Linked DNA regions of Homo sapiens: region 1 is linked to region 2. A link means that fine-mapping ties the variant in region 2 to the expression of a gene that starts in the linked region. Tissue or cell type: vagina. Region 2 holds a variant in brackets; the other region holds the start of a gene. All regions are shown on one strand. Distances are from middle to middle.

What was found. PIP is the estimated chance that this variant, and not a neighbour inherited with it, causes the effect.
Region 1: TELO2 starts here. The variant in region 2 is fine-mapped to the expression of TELO2 in vagina (GTEx, PIP 0.94).

What each region holds. Positions count from the first base shown.
Region 1 is chr16:1,488,890-1,496,124 of GRCh38, reverse strand. It overlaps TELO2 (telomere maintenance 2), which reads right to left and starts at 2,765. Exons shown (of 21, transcript NM_016111.4): 1 at 2,520-2,765; 2 at 1,509-1,879; 3 at 502-779. The coding sequence starts at 1,843. PTX4 (pentraxin 4) reads left to right here and starts at 7,181. Exons shown (of 3, transcript NM_001328608.2): 1 at 7,181-7,235. The coding sequence starts at 7,216. RefSeq lists enhancers at 1-257, 258-1,158, 2,060-2,960, 3,058-3,107 and silencers at 2,328-2,527, 2,538-2,587, 2,758-2,847.
Region 2 is chr16:1,510,056-1,519,019 of GRCh38, reverse strand. IFT140 (intraflagellar transport 140) reads left to right here. Exons shown (of 31, transcript NM_014714.4): 30 at 663-804; 31 at 7,870-8,593. The coding sequence ends at 8,076. It overlaps TELO2 (telomere maintenance 2), which reads right to left. Exons shown (of 21, transcript NM_016111.4): 21 at 8,566-8,964. Among named protein-coding and RNA genes, the nearest start is that of TMEM204, 19 kb to the left of the region's middle. The variant G/A (reference allele first, on the strand shown) is at 5,101.

The DNA.
Region 1 (7,235 bases), 22 kb after region 2:
ACCCTGCAGGGAGAGGCAGACGCTCCGGGTGCTGTGCAGGCCCCCGGCCCAGCCTCCTTCTCGCTAGTGAAACGCACACTCGCGGCAGCCGCCATCTGGCGCCCCAGGGAAAACAGAGCGAGCATGGGCGCTCACGGGGCCCTGCAGCCCAGCAGCGGGCAAGGCCGTTCCCACAGCACCCCCTCTCCAGGGCACCGCCAGCGTCTGCCTCCAGACCTGAGAACCTCGAGATCCCCCACCTGGCCACCACAGCACAGTTGGGCCCTGGAAACCCAAGGGACTGCAGGGACAAGAGAAGCCCGCGTGGAGGGCAGCGGACTTCAGCCCACAGCGGATGAGCCCTGCCGGTCACTACTGTGCGGGACAGGGACATCCCCACCTGCCTGACGGCATCAACCAGAGACTCCAAAGTCTCCAGAGGCCGTGAGGCACCAGAGGGTGGCAGGGGACGAGGACCCAAGAAGACGGGTGGCAAAGGGGGTCCCCGAGGCAGGGCCTCACCTTGGAGAGAGTCCACAACCGCCTGCAGCACCCGGACGACCTCCTCGCCGAGCAGGCGGAAGTAGTTCTGGGGGAAGAACTCGGCCAAGTTCTCCTGCTGCAGGCGGTTGCCCAGGTGATCGGGCAGGGCCACCACCTTGCCCAGCAGCGTCTCCCGGAGCAGGATGAAGCCGGGCTGCGTCTGCTGCCGACACTGCGCCTCCATCAGCACTGCCAGCCGGCCCTCGCGCAGGAATCTGGCCAGCAGCCGCGCCATCTTCATCAGCCGGAAGCTGGGGCTGAAGATACGGGCGTGTTGGGCAGAGCCGCCAACCCCCATCCTCGGGGCCCCCTTCCTGCCACAAGGAACCAGCAGCCCGGATTACACGGGCAGCCCCAACAACATAACCAGCGTGAAGTCCAAAACCACAAGCCGGATGGGAAAATCTGTTAATCCATTCCTAAATAACTGCGATTACTGTGTGAGAGCTCTCGGGGCCCTGAGCGGCTTCCCCAACCTGGAGTCTCACTGGACACCCCTCCCCTGCTGCTGACGCGGATAACTCAGTGCTTGCTTTGATCACAGCAACCTCTGAAAACCCAGCTTCTCAAGATGCAGTGTCCCGGCAAGGACTGCAGTGTGATCTGAGGCTGAGCCTGGGAGCCGGCTGGGGCTGGGAGTCCACATGGGACACGTGTCAGTGATGACAGCTGTGCTTCCCTGGAAAACCTGGAACGTCCCCAGCTGACGGGCTGCCTCTGCCGCCTGGGATGTGAACACTCCCACCCCATCCCTCTCTGACACAGCCGGACGGGGAGCAAGTGGGGGACTTTGTGAGACACAGCAGGTGCCTCCCGTCGCAAAGGAGACAGACACAGACCGCTTCTTCTGTTCAGGGGTTCAGCCAGGAGCAGGCTCTCTCTCTAGCCCCTCACAGGGACTAGAGAGGCTCTTGGTCCAGTCCTTCAAGCCACTCTCATCACTTCTGAGGCTACCGGCAACCCCAGGATGGGCCCAGCCCACTCACCCCGCAGCACCCTCGATGGTCTCCATCAACACCAGGAAGGCTTGGTCCGCCGGGCCCTCCAGGAAGAAGCTGGCCCACAGCTCCTCCAGGCGGCCATGGGGCAGCAGCTCCAGCCAGGCTGGGCTCAGCCTGCTGGCAAGACATCTGAGGACAGGCGAGAAGTGGGCCGAGGCAAACTCCTCCTTCTCCCTCGGGAGCGCTGGAGGCTCCATCTCACCGAGATACCGCTTCAGGGACTCCAGGGTGCAGAAGATGTGGCCGCCATCCTCCGAAGACGAGAGGGCATGAATGGCTTCCCGGACGGCGAGTCGAACCTCTGAGGGTGCTGGCTCCATCCTGCAGGACAGATCTGGGCGTCACGGGAAGACGACCTGTGACATGGACACAGGGCTCAGCTTGGGGCACGGAAATAATCCACACAAGCTCAGGAAGCCCCTCGGTGAGCGCCCCGAGACCCCACACCCCTCAACCCTGGTCCCACCCAACCCTGTCCCGCCTCCTTCCCCTCCAGTGCCTGCCGGTTTCCACCCAGAGTTCGCTCCTCCGCTCGGACCCCAACGCTACCAGCCACTGCAGGGCTTCTCAACCCGGGCCACTGTGCCCAGGGAACATTCTCAGTTGTCTCAACCGGGAGTGCCACTGGCGCGAGAGGGAGGTGGAGGCTAGAGATGCTGGTGAGTGTTCCCCGGGCACAGCGCGGCCCCACGCGTCCTCGCACCCAAGGCGGGAAACTCGGCCCGCGGGAGCTGCCGGCCCTCCCGGCTCCCTGAGCGGTGAGAGGTGGCTCCAGTCGCCATTCCTCCGCCCCTTAGAAACCAACAGCTTACGGGGAACACGGGTTCGGGGCTAGAGGAGCCGCACGCGGACCCGCCCCCGATCCAGGCCCGGACCCCGACCTGTACCCGGACCCCGACCGGACTCCTACCCGACCTGGACCCGACCCAACCAGACCTGGAGCCCAACCCGACCCAACCGGACCCCCGATCCCCGATCCCCGACCCCCAACCCGACCTGGACCCGGCTCCCGGGTGACTGCAGCGCGCTCAGGCGCCGCGCGCCACCGATTCGCTGCAGCCGATTCCCCACGGCCGCCGCGGCCCCGGACGAAACGCGATCGCGGCCCAGCCGGTTGGCCCCGAGCACGAGTTCCTGGGTCCGGGCGAGGCTCCCGCGGGTTTTCTTGAGCCTCTGGGGCGGGTCTCCGCGGGCCTCTCAGCGCGAATCTGCGGAGGACGCCAGGCGGGAGGGCGCATCTGCGCCTGCGCTGCGCGGGGACGGGGCGGAGCCTGGACGCGGGAGCGGGGGGCGGTGGGGTGGGCGGGGCCTGACGCGTGAGTGGGGCGGGGCCTGAGGGCAGGGCCGCGCTTCCCCACGTGGCTGCGAGCTGGGTTCGCTGCGCCCGGGTGGTGGGTTCTCGCCTTAGTTTCTCCCATCTCGGTCGTCCCTACCCTGGAGTGATGTCAGCCGTCTCTTCCCTCCGCCTCGGGTCCCACATTCTCTCCAGAACGCCGAGCGTTCGCTCTAAGGCAGATGTTTACCAAGACAGGCCTGGCTCGTCTTCCCCGGATGTAAGGCTCTGCTTTCAAGGGTCAGAGGCCAGTAAGGGAAACGCACGGTACACAAGGAAGTAAAAGAGCAGTTGAGATCATGTCAGATCTGAACAATTGCAGCTCCGTAAATGAGGCCGGGTCGTGGAATAAAAACTGCGACCAGTAGGGTAAGCGCTAGACGCATGTGGCTCTGTAAATTAACTGAAGTTAAATAAGTCCAGTTCCCTTGCAGCACTAGCCCCATCTCAAGGGCTCGGTACTACCTTTGGCTGTGGCCGCCAGGCTGGACAGCCGGACACTGAACATTTACAACATGCAGTGCCTTCTGTACACCGCAGCGGAGTGTGGGGGGCTTCATCTTTGTGGAGGGGGCAATCCAGGAAGACACCTAAAGAGGCGCCATTTCAGCAGTGATGGATGTGGGAAAAGCTGGGGAACAGTTATCCATTCAACAAACATTGATTAAATGCCTGCTTGGTGCACCAAGCCTTCTGAGCAACAAATGATGCAAAGTTCCTGCTCACCTATCGGGGGAACAGATAAAGTACATACGAAATATGCCAGGTGACAGGCCTCGAGCAGAAAAACTGGCAGAGGCCGGGCCCGGTGGCTCACGCCGGTAATTCCAGCACTGGGAAGCTGAGGTGGGAGAATCGTTTGCACCCAGAAGTTCAAGAATGGGAAAAATAGTGAGACCCTGTCTCTACAAAAAATTTAAAAATTAGCCAGGCACGGTGTCATGAGCCTGTGATCCCAGCTACTCAGGAGGCTGAGGTGGGAGGATGGCTTGAGCCCGGGAGGTTGAGGCTGCAGTGAGCCATGTTCACTGCCACTGCACTCCAGCCTGGACAACAGAGCAAGACCCTGTTTCAAAAAAAAAAAAGGAATCAAAATAAAAAACCGGTAGGGTAAGAAAATAAGAGCCAGTGGCCGGGCACAGTGGTTCACACCTCTAATCCCAGCACTTAGGGAGGCCGAGACGGGTGGGTCACAAGCTCAGGAGTTCGAGACCAGCCTGGCCAACATGGTGAAACCCCGTCTCTCCTAAAAAAAGAATAATAATAATAATAATAGTAATACAAAAATTAGTTGGGCGTGGTGGCATGTGTCTGTGATCCCAGCTACTTGGGAGGCTGAGGCAGGAGAATTGCTTGAACCCAGGAGGCAGAGGTTGCAATGAGTGGAGATTGTGCCATTGAACTCCAGCCTGGGTGACAGAGCGAGACTCCTCCAAAAAAAAAAAAAAAGAAAAGAGCCAGAGAGCAGTGGGTGCTGTCTTACGTAAGGTGAGAGCTCTGAACAGAACACCTTAGAGCAGAGCCCTGAATGTGTTGACAGCCAGGGAAGAGTCTCACTGGCAGGAAAACGGCAGGTGCAAAGGCCTGAGGCCGCAACTGTTGCCCGGGAGGTGGAGCCGAGGGAGGCATATGCAGGGGTGAGGCCTGGAGGGAGTGAGGCAGTGGGCCAGGCCACAGAAGGCCCTCGCAGGGACTAAGATTTTGCTTGTGTGGCAGGCATCTCCTGGAGCCATTGAAGGCACGGGTCCATGCTGGTGCAGTTAGGAGAGCAGACGGTAGGGGGGCGACACGGACGAGGGGACTAGGTGGCCATTGTGAGGATGAGCTTGGGGCGGAATGGGGGTGTAGAGAAGCAGCTGAACTCAGGGCATGTCTCTGCAGGCAGAGCTGATGGATGGGATATGGGGCAGGCAGCATCCCATCATCCCGGAAACTCCTCCTCCGTCCGCTGCTGGGTTCCAGCCCTCGCCAGTGCCCACGGCAGCTCCGTCCTTCCCTATTCCCTTCTTTTCCTGAAGCCCCGCATCCAACAGTGGGTGCTTGGAGGACAAATTTCTCAAGCCTTTGTGTGTCTGAAAATGTCTTTATTCTTTGCTCTGTCACCCAGGCTGGAGTGTAGTGGCGCGATTTCAGCTCACTGCAACCTCCTTCTCCCCGGCTCAGGCGATCCTCCCGCCTTAGCCTTCCAAGTAGCTGGGACTGCAGGTGCACACCACCACGTCTGGCTGATTTTTGTAATTTTAGTAGAGACGGGGTTTTGCCATGTTGCCCAGCCTGGTCTCGATCTCCTGGACTCAAGTGATCTGCCCACCTTGACCTCACAAAGTGCTGGGATTACAGGAGAGAGCCACCACACCCTGCCCCGACCCACAACTTTAAATGGAAATCAGGCAGGCTCAGTGGCTCACGCCAGTAAACCCAGCACTTTGGCTAGGCTGAGCTGGGAGGATTGCTTGAGCCCAGGAGTGTTTGAGAACAGCCTGGCAACATAGCAAGACCCTTCTCTACCGAAATAAAATAAATACATAAATAAATGGAACTCACTGTCAGTTGGAAGCTGCGAGATCCGCCGCTCTGTGTGTGGCACCAGCGTCGCTGTCCTGGTGGCTGCCAGTCCCCCGGGGCCTAAGGCCCCAACCCCGTCCATGTGCCCAGGATGTTCTCTCCGATGCTTTCTGCATCTTCTCCATGTCCATGGTGTTCTGACGCTTGACAAGGGGAGCCTGGGGGCCACCGATGGTTTCCTGGCCTGGCACCCTCTTGGCTCATGCCACCTTGGGAATGATGGATGCCCCCAGTGGGACAACTTTGTGGATGATCTTATTCCCATGAGCTGGGCGGCTTGAAACAACAGAAATGAGTCCTATCACAGTTCTGGGGGCTGGAAGTCTTGAAGTGAAGGTGCACACTCCCTCGAAGGCTCTGGGCTGGGGGTTCCCACTTTACCTCTTCCAGCTTCTGGGGCCTCTGGGGGTTCCTCGTGGCAGCGTCACCCCAGTCTCTGCCCCATCTTCACAGGCCGTGTCCTCTGTGCCTCCTCCTCTGTCTCTTGTACCCCTGTCATTGGCTTTAGGGCCACCTGGATAATCCAGGATGGTCTCATCTCAAAATCCTTCATGACATCCGCAGAGACCTTTTCCACATAAGGCCCTGCCTGGGGCTTATGTGTGTTTTTAGGAGGGTCTCATTCAAGCCAGTACACAACCTGTAACCAAAAATACCAGCCTGGCCCACATGGGGCAACCCCGTCTCTACTACAAATACAAAAATTGGCCGGGCGCGGTGGCTCATGCCTGTAATCCCAGCATTTCGGGAGGCTACAGCGGGTGGATCACCTGAGGTCGGGAGTTTGAGACCAGCCTGGCCCACATGGTGAAACCCCGTCTCTACTAAAAATACAAAAATTAGCCGGATGTGGGGGCACATACCTGTAATCCCAGCTACTTGGGAGGCTGAGACAGGAGAATCCGTTAAACCCAGGAGGCGGAGCTTGTGGTGAGCGGAGATCGCACCACTGCACTCCAGCCTGGGTGACAGAGCAAGACTCCGTCAAAAAAATTAATTAATTGGCCAGGCGCAGTGGCTCATGCCTGTAATCCGAACACTTAGGGAGGCTGAGGCAGGCAAATCATGAGGTCAGAAGTTTGAGACCAGCCTGACCAACATAGTGAAACCCCATCTCTACTAAAAATACTAAAATTAGCCGGGCATGGTAAAGCACGCCTGTAATCCCAGCTCCTCAGGAGGCAGGAGGCTGAGGAAGGAGAATCGCTTGAGCCGGGGAGGCAGAGGTTGCAGTGAGCTGAGATTGCGCCATTGCACTCTAGCCTAGGCAACAGAACGAGACTCCATCTCAAATAATAATAATAATTAATTAATTAAGGTGGCTCCCAGTCACATTTCCATTGCTTTACTGAGAGAGACGGGGCCTCCCAGGATGCAGCCGTGCACGGCCTGGGTGATGGGTGCCTGTGCAGACCTGGCTCTGTTGACTCCCCAGCCCCCGTCGGGTTCCCTGTCTTGCTTCGACTTCTCGGGAGCACAAGTCCATGTGCTCCTGTTAAAGCCATCGCCTCCTGCCCGCGGGCTTGCACCCAGCTGAATGATTCTTCAAAGAAACTGTTTGCATCTGTTTTAAGCTTGTCTCCTTAGGAACCTGCAAGTCTCAGAGCCCACTGGCTTGAAGGCAGATGCCTTTCATGGAGGCGGCAGGAAGAACCTGACATCCAGCCAGGGCCAAAGAAGGAAAACCACTCAACAGGAGAGCTGGGGGGACGAGACACAAGACAGACCCACGGAGCCACCTTCACCCTCTCCTGCGGCTGGAGGGAGACTGCTGGGGCCTTGCCGTCTCTCCGGATGGGTTGCTCGTGGAGGAA
Region 2 (8,964 bases):
GGGTGGGCAACCTTCTATGGGCCAGGGGTCAGAGGGCAGGCCAGGCGCCTGTCTGGAATGGCCGAGTCAGTGGGTGGCCAGATGGGCCCTGGACCCTCCTGACATGGGAGCCTGAGCTCCACACGGCTCCAGTCACCTGCCCTGGACCATGTTGTGTTCCAGCAGGCTCACCTCCCTGGTGTCACCCCAGCTCACAGGCCACACACCCTGCTCTGCCACAGACCCTCACGCCAGGTCACACACGCAGCCTGTGTGCGGGCAGCCTCTCTGCTTGGAGGGTTCTTCCCAGCGGCCTTGGGCAAGGGGTGCCGTGCGCCTCTCCGTGTACCCTGTCCACATGCACCACATCCCCTCTGGGTCACGCTTTGTGCAGAGGTTTCTAGCCCCCTCTGGACTGTTCCATAGAGCAGGAACTAGGGGTCGGAAGTCTTTGGTCTTCAGTCCAAGCATAGGACCCAGCATTCAAGTGATCAGTAAGAATGTTACATGGATGAGTTAATTTATGAATGAACAAATTAAGGAATTAATGAATTTAACTTCATAGAAAGTTTCCTCCTGCCATTCCGGAGAGCTCCTCTTACAGGCCAAGAGTCTCCTCTGACCTCTGATAGCAGTAGGTGTTCAGGGCTTCGGGGCCCAGGCCTCATCTCTGCTCTCGGCAGGACGTACACAGAGGACCCCAAGGAGTCCATCAAGCAGTGTGAGCTGCTCCTGGAGGAACCAGACCTGGACAGCACCATCCGCATCGGGGACGTCTATGGCTTCCTGGTGGAGCACTACGTGCGGAAGGAGGAATACCAGACGGTGAGGCCTGAGTGCTGCTCACTAGCAGCATCCCGCCACACAAGGCTCCTGAAACGAAGGCTTAACGGCTCAAACTGAGGCTGTGTGTGGCGGCTCACTCCTGTAATCCCAGCACTTTGGGAGGCTGAGGCAGGAGAATGACTTGAGCCCAGGAGTTCAAGAGCAGCCTGGGCGACATGGTGAAACCCCATCTCTACAAAAAGGGGAAAAATTAGCCAGGCATGGTGGCTCACACCTGGGGTCCCAGCTGCTTGGGAGGCTGAGGTGGGAGGATCCCTTGAGCCCAGGAGGTTGAGGCTGCAGTGAGATCTGATGGCGCCACTGCACTCCAGCCTGGGTGACAGAGCGAGACCCTGTCTCAAAAGAAAAAAAAAATCTGTCGGTAGCAAAAAGTAACAGTCTCACGCTGTTACTGGCTGTTACTAGCAGTGTCGCAGGAAAGCGACAGACTTACTTTATTTGTGAAGAAATGTCTGCATGTACCCGAGTCTGAATAACCACGATTTCTTTTTCAGGGATTTTCACAAAAAAAGAAAATGGTGTTCCATTTTTTAGTCGCTTATTTTTTAATTTTAGAGACAGCGTGTAGTCACTTTAAAGTGACCAGCTAATCACTTATTCAGCCGCAGTGTTCTAGCGTTTTCCTCATCCCCACCAACATTTGATCATTCTTTCGAACTGTAGCCATCCTAGGGGGTGAACAGTACCTTGCTGAGGTTTAAATTCACATTTTCTGGATGAGTAGTGATGTGCAGCTCCTTCTCATGTGCTTATTATCCATTTACACACCTTCTGTGAAGGCTTCAAGTCTCTTCTCATCATTTTATTGGGTTTTCTTATTATTGTACTTTTTTTTTTTTTTTTTGGAGACGGAGTCTCACTCTGTTGCCCAGGCTGGAGCGCAGTGGCGCGATCTCGGCTCACTGCAAGCTCCGCCTCCTGGGTTCACGCCATTCTCCTGCCTCAGCCTCCCAAGTAGCTGGGACTACAGGTGTGCATCAGCATGCCTGTAGAGATGGGGTTTCACCATTTGGCCAGGCTGGTCTTGAACTCGTGACCTCAAGTGATCCACCCGCCTCCACCTCCCAAAGTGCTGGGATTACAGGCGTGAGCCACCGCGCCTGGCCGAAGTTCCCTTCTATTCCTTTTTTCCTCTGCTTCTGAAATTCCAATGACTTGTATATACAGTACCATCCCCTAGCTCAACTGATGCTCTTCTTTTCTCCCCCAAGGACTTTTTCTGTTTTTCATTTTAGGGATTTGCCATTTCTGTTGCTTCAAGTTTACCAGCTTTCCTTCTGCAGTGTCTCACTCTGATGGTAATCCCATCCATCTTTTTCATGTCAGTTTTCTACCAGTCAACTTTTTCTACCAGTTTTTATTATTGTTACTTTAAACCTTTTTTCCTGCCTTCTTTTTAGTTGATTTTTTTTTTTTTTTTTTTTTGAGACAGAGTGTCGCTCTGTCGCCCAGGCTGGAGTGCGGTGGTGCAATCTCGGCTCACTGCAAGCTCTGCCTCCCGGGTTCACGCCATTCTCCTACCTCAGCCTCCCGAGTAGCTGGGACTACAGGCGCCCGCCACCACGCCCAGATAATTTTTTTGTATTTTTAGTAGAGACAGGGTTTCACCGTGTTAGCCAGGATGGTCTCGATCTCCTGACCTCATGATCCGCCCGCCTCGGCCTCCCAAAGTGCTGGGATTACAGGCGTGAGCCACCGCACCTGGCCTTAGTGGACTATTTTTTATAATTTCATTTTAGCTATCAGCTTTTTATCTCTACTCCTCTTTGCATTGTATTTCTAGTGTTTGCCCTGGAGATTACCATAAACATACTTACCACACTAGAGTTAGCAGGTAGGTCCATTTCCCACCCGTGTCCCCACCTGTATTTGTCGTATGTGTAACATGTACATGTATTATAAACACAGTATAGTGTTATAATTGTTGCTTTCAACAGTCATATGTATTTTGAAGAAATTAAAAGGAAAGAAATAGTCTTTTACATTTACCTACATATTTACCATCCATTTCTGGTGTTTTTTTTTTTTTTTTTTTTTTTTTTTTTTTTTTTTTTTGAGACAGAGTTTTGCTCTTTGTAGCCCAGGCTGGAGTGGGCAACAAACCTCAGCTCACCACAACCTCTACCCTCCAGGTTCAAGTGATTCTCCTGCCTCAGCCTCCGGAGTAGCTGGGATTACAGGCATGCGCCACCACGCCTGGCTAATTTTGTATTTTTAGGGGAGATGGGGTTTCTCCATGTTGGTCAGGCTGGTCTCAAACTCCCAACCTCAGGTGATCTGCCTGCCTCGGCCTCCCAAAGCGTCATTTCTGGTGTTCTTACTTCTTCCCTATGATTCCGATTTGCATGTGGTATCACTCCTCTTCAGCCTGAGCTCCCTTTAACATTTCTTCTAGTTCAGATCTCCTGATGATGAATTTTCTTACTTTTCGTTAATCTGAAATGTATTTATTTTGCCTGTATTCTTCAAGGTTGTTCTCATCAGATAGAGAATTCTGAGGCCAGGCACAGTGGCTCATGCCTGTAATCTCAGCACTTTGGGAGGCCAAGGTGGGAGGATTTCTTGAGGCCAGGAGTTCAAGTCCAGCCTGGGTAACAAGTGAGACCCCATCTCTGAAAAAAATAGCAAGGCATGGTGGCATGCACCTGCAGTCTTGGCTGCTTGGGAGGCTGAGGTGGGAGGACTGCTTGAGCCCAGGAGGTTGAGTCTGCAGTGAGCTGTGATAGCACCACTGCACTCCAGCCTGGGTGACAAAGCAAGATCCTGATTCAAAAAAAATCCTGATTTGACAGATTTTTTTCCTTTCAGCACTTGAATGTTTTCCCTGTCTGGGCCTCCATTGTTTCTGGAAGAGTCAGCTATGGGCTGTCTGTGGGGCCCTTACATGTCATGTGTCTCTCCATCTCCCACTGCACTGGCTGCTGTCATGACTTTCTTCTTGAATTTGTGTTTCAGCAGTGCGATAATGATGTTCCTAGGTGTTTTCATTGTATTTATCCTGGGCTTTTGGGATCTATATTTGTGTTTTGCCAAATTTGGGAAATTTGCTCTTTTTCTCCTTCTGGGACTCCAATTAAATGTTAGGTCTTCCATATCTAGTAGACACACATTTGTGATTACTGCTCATTATTTTCTTTTTTTCTGTCCTTTGGATTAATTTGTATTTATCTAGACTTTCTTTAGCTATCTTCAATCTGCTGTTAACCTCTCCAGCAATCTTTTTAGAGCTTGTATTTTGCAGCCCTAGAATTTACACTTAGTTCTTTTTATTATTTATTGGCTAAAATTCCCTATTTGTTAATTTGTTTAAAATATATTTTATATTTATATCCTAAAGCAGAGTTGTAACTGCTGCTGTAAAATCTTAGCTACCGGTTCCAATATCTGGGTCATGTAGGATTGATCTCCATTACTTGCCTTTTGAGTATGGGTCAAATTTTCCTGTTTCTTATGTCTAGTCATTTTTTTGTATCATGGACATTGTGGATAATCCATTGTAGAGACTCTGGATTCTGTTACATTCCTCCAAAGAGTATTGCTTTTTTTTGGTTCATTTTATTAGGCAATCACCTTTGCTCAGCTCAGAGCCGAAACTCTTTCCCCTGTGGTGGATAGCAGCTGAAATCCCTGCTTGTAGCGTGAGTTGGCTTAAAGTCTGCACCTCCCCTGCCTCATGTGTAGTGTGGGAGCAACTAGTGACGAGGGCAGCATATGCTCAGGATTTGGGATCCCCTCTATGCCTGCTGCATCCCAACGTTTCCACCTTCACATTCCAGCTGCTGTGGTCAACAAAAATCTTTTATTTATTTATTTATTTATTTATTTGAGATGGAGTGTCGCTCTATCGCCCAGGCTGGAGTGCAGTGGCGTGATCTCGGCTCACTGCAAGCTCCGCCTCCCTGGTTCATGCCATTCTCCTGCTGCAGCCTCCCGAGTAGCTGGGACTACAGGCGCCCGCCACCACGCCCAGTTAATTTTTTTTGCATTTTTAGTAGAGACGGGGTTTCACCGTGTTAGCCAGGATGGTCTCGATCTCCTGACCTCGTGATCCACCCACCTTGGCCTCCCAAAGTGCTGGGATTACAGGCGTGAGGTACCGCACCTGGCCAACAAAAATCTTGATTCTGATTCTTTAAGCCTGGAAGAGGGCAGGCTTCGAGGTGGCTGATGCCCACACTGGCCCTGACTTGGGCCTACCCTGAGGCAGAAAGTTGTGAGAAGCAGCCGGGTGCAGTGGCTCACGCCTGTAATCCCAGCACTTTGGGAGGCCAAGGC[G/A]GGCAGATCATGAGGTCAGGAGATGGAGACCATCTTGGCTAACACGGTGAAACCCCGTCTCTACTAAAAATACAAAAAATTAGCCGGGTGTGGTGGTGGGCGCCTGTAGTCCCAGCTACTTGGGAGGCTGAGGCAGGAGAATGGTGTGAACCCGGGAGGCGGAGCTTGCAGTGAGCAGAGATCGCACCACTGCACTCCAGCCTGGGCGACACAGCAAGACTCCGTCTCAAAAAAGAAAAAAAAAAAAAGAAAGTTGTGAGAAGCAGGAAGCCTGCCCAGTGCCACCCACTCCCAGCATCAGCCTGCTCACGGCTGCCCCCAGTGCCTTTCCATGTGTCCGTCGTCATTAGGGGGAGGGCTGCTCTCACAGGAGTCGTGCTGCTGTTGTCAGAAGCCTCTCTTCTCATTCTTTTTTCTTTTCTGAGACAGTCTTGCTCTGTTGCCCAGCTGGAGTGCAGTGGCATGATCGTGGCTCACTGCAACCTCCGCCTCCTGGGCTCAAGCAATTGTCCTGCCTCAGCCTCCCAAGTAGCTGGGACTACAGGTTCCCGCCACCACGCCCAGCTAATTTTTGTATTTATTTATTTATTTTTTAGTAGAGACGGGGTTTCACCGTGTTAGCCAGGATGGTCTTGATCTCCTGACCTCGTGATCCGCCCACCTCGGCCTCCCAAAGTGCTGGGATTACAGGCGTGAGCCACCGCGCCCGGCCTCTTTTTCAACCATAATTCTGTTGTAGCCAACATAGAGAATTGCACGCGCCTGCATCCGTCAGACCCTGCAGCTATGCCGATGCCTGCAGGGCCTCTGCACCCACCAGTTGTGTTGCCCTATTAGATAGTTCCCGGGACTCACAAACTGAGTATCGAGAAATGAGCTTGGGAAACATGCTGGCGACCGTGTCGGGCTCGCTGGGCTGCAGCCTCCAGAATTCACAGGAAAGCTCCTTGGCAGTGGCTCTCCCTCAGGGCTGAAAGGTCAGCTCCGTGAGACACAGACTTCCTGGCCCGGTTGCTCACTCCCCTCTGCGCCGTTCCACTTCCATTCACTGACCCCTTTTGCTGCTGGAAAAAACAACTCAAGTCTAATCCTAACAAGGTTTCTTTTTTGTTGTTGCTTGGTTTGGTTTTGAGACGAGGTCTTGCTCTGTCGCCCAGGCTGGAGTGCGGTGGCACAATCACAGCTCCCTGCAGCCTCAGCCTCCCGGGTTCAAGGGATCCTCGTGAGTGGCTGGTGTGCAGCACCGCGCCCTGCTCCAACGGGGTTTCTATTTCTAGGAGAACTATAGTTTTCCGTATAAAAGCAAAATTGGAGTAGAGAGATGCCCAGACTGCTATATCCTCAAAATTAACAGGAAATCCACATTTTAAATATTTCGCCAACTTCTTTATTCTCTCTATGGTTGCTTGAAGCCTGTGGAATTTAGTAACTCGAGATACAAAAGAAAAAAGAAACTGGGAAGCGCAGCTAAACTGAGAATGCCCAGGCACACGCTCCCTGGCTGCTGCTGTAGCGCCACCCGGGGTCACGTGCACCACCTCACCCAGGCCACAGCTCCTATATCCGCTCAGCTTTCCCGCCATCATCCATCATCTGAGCACAGCCCGCACACACCCTCCTGATGCTGGAGACCGGCAACATTTCTGTCCCCACGTCCTGCCCTCCACCGCCCCTCACCCACCTACGCCGCCTGTCCTGCCCCCCATCCTGCCCCCCACCCACCTATGCCGCCTGTCCTGCCCCCCATCCTGCCCCCCACCACCCCTCACCCACCTATGCCGCCTGTCCTGCCCCCCACCACCCCTCACCCGCCCTCCGCACCTTCTGCCTGCCTTCTGGAAACCACTTGATTGCCCTCTCCGAAGCTAGCTCTGCACACAGAGCAGTCACACGCACCAGGCCCTGGTTGCATCAGGACGCCGGCCCTTTCTGACCACAGGGTCCCTCTTCGACCCTGGTCAGCTCCTTCCTCTCTCTCCCTCCCTGTGCCAGCCCTTCTCTGAATTCTGCCACTGCAGGACCTCGGCCTGACCTGGCTCCCCACTACAGCATTACCCAAGCTTGTTCTGTGCCCTTACGTCCTGTGTCCCCTGTGTCCCCAGCACAGCGCCTGGCACATGGCAGGTGGTTTGTCAGCATGTAAGGCAGCATCTTTTCAGGTGTGGATGTTTGCCCTCAGCCTCTCGTTTGAGACTGTGTGGAAGGCTTGCACTCCACCAGCGCCCACCCCAGCTGAGGCCTTCCTTAAACGCAGGTCCACTGCCAGGTGATGGGAGGGGCCATCCAACAAGCTTATTATATCTTCATAGCTGAGACTCCATCTCAAAAAAAAAAAATACCCAAGCCAAACCAGTAGATATCGCTGCCTGCCCTCCACTCTGACATATGCATGTCCACCCGCAAGACTCGAGTGCAGAACGCGGGGCCTCTGCCTCCCCAGGAGGCTCTGCCCGCACACGCACGGTGAGCAGGCCTGTGCACAGCTGCTGAGGGACTTTCCAGGGCCCTGGCTCTGCATTTCCAGCTGAAATGCTGACCGAAGCTTCCTGTTGAGTGTCCACACATGGCATGTGTGCGGTCCGCGGGCACCGCATCCCCTCATCACCACATTCCCCCATCACCAATGGGAAGCCTCAGTGCACCCCGTGTCCTCCAGCGCGGAGGCACCCCCACCCGCCTCCAGGGGCAGCAGCACGTGCCTGGCCTGCAGGCAGAGGGTCGTGCCTGGTTGTTCAGGAAAGCTGAGTAATGTCTGCTCCTCTGCCCCAGGCCTACAGATTCCTGGAGGAGATGCGGCGGCGGCTTCCCTTGGCCAACATGTCCTACTACGTGAGCCCGCAGGCCGTGGACGCCGTGCACCGGGGGCTGGGTCTCCCACTGCCACGCACCGTCCCCGAGCAGGTCCGCCACAACAGCATGGAGGACGCCAGGGAGCTGGACGAGGAGGTGGTGGAAGAGGCAGATGACGACCCCTGAGGGGCCTGGGCCCCAGGACCAGCGTGCTGCTGCAGAAAGGCATCTTCTGGAATTTTTTTGTCAGCTGTGGCAAAGCCAGCATTTTTGCTGGGAAAAAACATGTCTGTGTTGGAATACGCGACAGAGCTGGGCGAGAACGCAGCGGCCCGGGCCGGCGGAGGGTGTGACCCGTCTGCACCTTGCTCTGTCCCACCTGCCTCTGGGTGCCCGGCAGCTCCACTAGATTTTTGGATTCATTCCTTTGAAGGGAGTCGGGTTCACCCTTCCATCGTATTCTCCCAACTACACATTGTAAAGCCTGAGAAACTTCTAGAACCTCAGGAAGCTGCAGCTGGAGGGCTGGGGCACCTGCCCCCCTGCTCCCCACACATCATATCCTCCCCATACTCCTGCAGGGCCCACGGCTCCTGAGCAACAGCTGGGACACCCGGGCCTTGGCGGCTGCACCCCCTGCTAGGCTCTGCCCACCGGCCACCAACACTCCTGTAATTCCAATAAAGCAGTTTATTTTCTGAGAGCCCGTGCCCTGTCCCATCCCGCCCCACGAGCCCATCCAGGAGCCACACACCCTGCCTGGGCTGTGAGCACTATTCTCCTGGTGACACGGCGCTCAGCCCGAGGGACCTGGGACAAGAGCTGCTCTGTCCTGCTTGGTGGCTCTCAGAGGAGAGCCTTGGGGGCTCTGAGCAGCAGGTACACCGTCCTCCCCTCCTGCCAGCCTGGTTCTGCCCTCACTGGAAGAGTCAACCCCGCCAGCAGCGCCCACAGCCCCAGCCCCACGTCCAGGCTGCCATGTCCCGGCGGGCAGTGCCCAGGCCCAGTGTATTTTTAGCGGACTGGCTGCACTATAAATAGCGGCAGGCCGGGCCTTCCTGCATCTGCACTCTC